Regions from separate parts of the Homo sapiens genome. Here region 2 is linked to region 1. Evidence: fine-mapped expression QTL. Tissue or cell type: cerebellar hemisphere. Region 1 holds a variant in brackets; the other region holds the start of a gene. All regions are shown on one strand. Distances are between the middles of the regions.

Region 1 (2,500 bases):
GCTAAGTGAAAGAAACCAGTCAACACAAAAGACCACGTAAGATTCCACTTATGAAATATCTGGAACAGGCAAATCTATAAGGACAGAAAATAGATTAGTGGTTGCCTAAAGTTGGAATGGAGGTTGGGGAAAATCATGAGCGCTAATGGGTATGAAGTTTTCTTTTGAGTGATGAAAATGTTTTAAAACTGATGTGGTGATGATTGTACAGCAGCTCTAGCAAACTGACACAGGTGACAAGGATAAAGACATTCATCTGGCTGGAGGGGAAATAAGTTCTTCCTTAAGTCTTTCAAAAATTTGGACCCATGGGGGGTGACTAGAAGGGATATGACCTAAGAGCTCAAGGGATTTGAAAACATTGTGCTTGCTCACCTACACCCATCTAATCTTCGACAAAGCTAACAAAAACAAGCAATGAGGAAAGGACTCTATTCAAGAAATGCTGCTAGGATAACTTGCTAGCCATATGCAGATTGAAATTGGATCCCTACCATTCACCATATACAAAAACCAACTCAAGATGAATTAAAGACTTAAATGTAAAATCTGAAACTATAAAGAACCCTAGAAGAAAATCTGTGACCCTCAGCAAGTGCAATTATTATTTTTTCTTTCCAACTTTTATTTTAGTTTCAAGGGGGTACTTGCTGAGGGTCACAGGGTCCAGAAGAGTCTTTGAAATGGAGGTGGAAGTTTTCACAGGTGTATGTGTGTGTGTTTCTGTGTGTGTGTGTGCGTGTGTGTGTGTGTGTGCATGTCATGTGCACATTTGTGGGCCAAAGTATTATAGAAACAAAGTCGTGGAGACAGGAGAGCATGAAGTGGGTTTGGGAGCAGCACAGGGATGAATGATAGGATTAGGCCAGGGAGGCAAGCTGGGGCTTTGTTTCAGATACTGCTCCAGTGGGTGGCCCCATTTTTCAGGGCTAGATGAAGATAACGAAAGTGGGAGCCACTGTTTCCCCACAAGTTTCCTAGAGGAGAGGATGGGCCAATCAGTGGTTGTCCTGGAAGCCACAATGAGCCTAGAGCCCATGTGTGAGATATAGACAAGGAAAAGTCACTTGGGGCAGTTGGGAATATCAACGAGGAAGGAACCTTCCACCCTAAAGGTGTGGTAAACTTAGGAGAGGTTGGGTCCACGCAAAGAGGGTCTACTTTGGGAGTGGGTACATTAGGGAGGCACAGAAGGGAAGAGATAAACTAATGAAATTAGTATCTGCTGAGCAGCTTCTGTGTCCCAAACACTCTACTAGGCCTTTCAGGTGTGTTATCTGAGCTCCTTCTCACAATAGCCCAGTAAAAATGGTACCATTACCCCATCTTCCACATAAGAAATAGGCTCAGAGAGAGGTAGTCACACGCCCAAAGGCAAACAGCTAGTGGCCAGGCTGAGCATGAATCTAAATTTCCCTGTTTCATTTTTACACTCTACCATACCTCTGCAATAATTTTTGAAAGGACAGATTGCCTGGCCAGATGGG[A/C]CATCTGCTCAGTTCTTGTTGACCACATTCCACCCACCCCTCTGGCATAAACATGCCTTGTTCACCCAAGCAGAGGAGCTTGGATACCATCTACGCCTCCTTGGGTTCTTAAAGACCACAAGAATAGTCACCCAAGATGAAATGGTGATGCTTTTGCCTAAAGCGGGGGCCTCAGTGGGCTCAGAGACCGATGGGAATGTGTGTGACAGTGTGTTTATCATATTCAAAGGGAGACCTTTCTGATAACAACTGTTGTACTGGGGACAGTTATTTTCAACCAGGGCTCTTTCAAGAAAATATGGTCAATAAACTTCATGTGCCCTTCAGCTAAAAGCATTTTACTTTAACCTTCAGCTATAGAAAGCCTGGGGAATATGACAACGGTTTTCGTTCATTGACCACCTACTGTGTACCAGGGGCTCTACATATATTATCTTTCGTTGTGATGGGAAACACAGGGATGGTGCATTGCCAGCCACTGAAGCCAACGTAGCAGAAGCATGAGAGCCCTTGTCACATAGGTGAGCACCAGGGCAGTAATCCCCAAAGTCTGCTGGGTGGAAAGAATGGGTGGTCCTCTATCTGGTGCGCTCCCTGCAGCCACACAGATTGCATTTCTGGGACACTTGCTATGGTTTAAATACGATCCCCAAATTTTATGTATTCGATATTTAATCCCCAAATTTATATGTTGATGGCATTTGGAGGTGGAAACTTTGGGAGGTAATTACCATTAGATAAGGTCATCAGGGTGGGGTCCCCAAGATGGAACTGGTAGCTTTATAAGAAGAGGAAGAGGGACCTGAGCTGGCATGCTCTTGCTGTCTTACCATGTGATGCCCTTTGTGATGTTATGACATGATAAGAAAGCCCTCACCAGATGCAGCCCCTCAACCTTGGACTTCCCAGCCTCCAGAACTATAAGAAGTATTTTTTTTCTTCATAAATTACCCGTCCTTGCGTATTCAGCCATAGCAACAGAAAAAAGACAAAGACAATACTGTGATCTGCAT
Region 2 (2,628 bases), 75 kb after region 1:
GCGCAGGAGCAAAATGTCCAGGAAGGAGGGAGAGAGACCAGAGGAAGGAGGAGGCGCCTCTTTCACCCGCGTCCCCAGGTCCCCATGTACGCCACGTGGGTGGGAGCGTGTCCCACACACCCGCGCGCCCAAAGCCACATTCGCCACGCTCCCGCCGGGGCGGGCTCACCGCGCGCCTCTGGGTGCCGAGCCTCCACAGGCCACATAGCCGCCACCTGCTGCTGCATCCCCACTGCGGGGACAGGGGCACTCAGTGCCTCCCTCCGTCCCCCCCGCCCCGCGAAGGCCTCCCATCCTCCAGGGCCAGGCGGAGGCCACGTCTTTCCCGGGCCCCCTCCCCAACGCGGAGAGGGAAGCGGAGGGAGGAGCTTGGCCCGCAGCCGCCGGCCCTCCCCGCACTGGAGCTCCCCCTCCCCTCCCTCCCCGCCCCTCGGCTGCCGCAGCCCGGCTCGCAGCGCGCGTCAGCGGGGGCTCCCCGGAGCGAGTCGCTAGGTAACGGGGCTGGCTCCGCAGACGCGGGGCCGGGGAAGCCCGCGCGCGTCATCAGCAGCGGCGCCGCGGGGCGGGGGGCGCAGAGACCCTCCCCAATCCCGGCCTGCCACCACCTGGCTCGCGCGCAGCCCCGGCCCAGAATGCCTTAACCTGCGCCGATTGCTGCCGCCGAGGTGCCCCTCCCCTGTAGGGACCCCGACGCCGCCAGCCCCTTCCTCCTTTCCCGCAGGTGCGCACTGCTGTGCTTGCGGCCGGGTGGGCGCCCCGCCGCTGCGGTCGCGGTCGCCGCTGGTAAGCTGCGCTCTGGGGCTTGGGGCAGGAAGCAGTGGGGGGCGCTCGAAGAGCAGGGCAGCTACGGCCACCGTGGCCGCCGGACCGGCCATGTGCTAAAGTTTCTGGGGCTCGGCGCCCCGCTGGGCGCGCAGCGCGGGGAGCAGACGCGCCGTGGGTGGGGCAGCGCGGTGCTGCTGGCGCCCGGCCCCCGCGGGGTGCAGCTCTGCGCGTTCTCATGCTGTCTCTCTCTCTTTCCCTCCGCGCTGCCTCTCCGAGGTCCTCCCGCCGAGCCCCGGCGCGGGGCATGAGGAGCCCCCGGGTGCCGCCCAGAGACCAGCAGGCTGCGCGCACACCTAGCCAGCGGCAGACGGGGACATGAGCAGCGCGCACGGGGTCCCGCGCCCGGCGGCCAGCCCTATCCGGCGGCGGCCAGCGGGTCAACGCTGCCCGGGAGAATGAGGCAGGAGCCGGCGGCAGCCTCCTTTTTTTCCTTCTCCTCGCCTTCCTGCGGCTCCGGCGCTCCGGGTCCGGGCCGGGCTGCGGCTCTGCTGCGTGCCCCGCGCGCCCCTCAACCGCCTCCGGATGCGCTTCTCGGTAAGCCAGGCCCTCCGCCTCGCGAACAAAGCTCCCTTCGCAGGGCCCGGAGGCCGCCTCAGGGCCCCTGTCCTACCCTCCTTCCCCACTTACAGCCTGGAAACATTCGGGGCTTCCGATTGAATCGTTCAATTTCCCCTGCCCCGAAGCCCCGCCTGGAGGCTGAACTGCCCGGGCAGACCTGGTGCTTTCTTCTGCCTTCTGGAGAAAGATGTGGGTTTGACATGCAGGCGGGAGACCTGTCTGGTCTAGATAACGGCATGTGTATGCAGCTAGGTTCAGACTTAGCATTTGGGGGCAACAACTCTTATTTAGTGGGTGTCCAGGCCGTGCCGGGCAGTGTGCCTCAAAGCCGCTCTGGGAAATAGGTCCCCGTTTCTCCTTGGCCCAGATGAGGAAACTGAGGCTTAGAGAGGTTGAATGACTTAATCAAGGTCACAAGGTTAGGAAGTGGGAGACCAGGATTGGAAACCAGGGTACCCTACTTCCCTGCCAGACTGTTCCCTTTGTAACAAACACACCTGTCTCATTTCTTCTACTAACTGCTTCCGTCTCGAGAGTCATTGCGTGTGTGTGAAAATACTTGCTCCAATGAGTATCTGTTCTGATGAAATAAATTGCCTGTAGCAAGCACTTTTTGTCCATCCTGCCATCACGCTGCTGCCAACCCCTAATGTGTACTCTACTTTTTAGTTCAGGTGAGAGGATAATATGTTTTCCTAGGTGTTCTCTTTCCTGGGGTTCTGTTTTCCCAGTCCTCCTGAAGGATGGAAAGGACAGTGGTTCCTCCTGTGTGCCCAGCACATGCTAGGCCTCAGAACTGCATCCTTAACCTTTCCCTGGGGGCAGGGCTCATCAAGGTTACCTGCCCCTGGTTTTGTAAATCTTGGAGATGATTACTTAACCGGAGCGGGGGCTGATCCCAGATGGCCACTGTGCAGGGGCTGGCCCAGTGTTGGCTCATATTTGCCAGCCCTCAGTGTCAGCAGAACTTCTGAGCCCCAAACACTTCTGAGCCCCAAAGAAAAGGAGTTTTAATGCAGATACGATGCCTGATGCATGCCCCCAGTTCTCTGGCTTGCCGCTGTTAGCTGTTTGCTTAAGTGCATTTAGTTAACTGTTTGCTTAAGTGCATTTAGTTAACTGTTTGCTTAAGTGCATTTAGTTCCTGAAGGGGCAAGCCACCTGGAATCAATTGATCCTGGTCTGAGGGGCTTGTTCCATTGGTGAAGTCACAGTGTTGAGCTCAGTTGTCTACACGTACATTTG

Direction of the effects. Alleles are on the strand shown, and positions count from the first base shown. SD is a standard deviation of normalised expression in the study named.
As copies of A replace C in region 1, the expression in cerebellar hemisphere of the gene that starts at base 1,014 in region 2 goes down (moderate effect, 0.45 SD a copy in GTEx).

What was found. PIP is the estimated chance that this variant, and not a neighbour inherited with it, causes the effect.
Region 2: TUNAR starts here. The variant in region 1 is fine-mapped to the expression of TUNAR in cerebellar hemisphere (GTEx, PIP 0.90).

The regions. Positions count from the first base shown.
Region 1 is chr14:95,800,505-95,803,004 of GRCh38, forward strand. No RefSeq gene overlaps it. Among named protein-coding and RNA genes, the nearest start is that of TUNAR, 75 kb to the right of the region's middle. The variant A/C (reference allele first, on the strand shown) is at 1,488.
Region 2 is chr14:95,875,819-95,878,446 of GRCh38, forward strand. It overlaps TUNAR (transmembrane neural differentiation associated intracellular calcium regulator), which reads left to right and starts at 1,014. Exons shown (of 2, transcript NM_001416131.1): 1 at 1,014-1,359. The coding sequence starts at 1,348.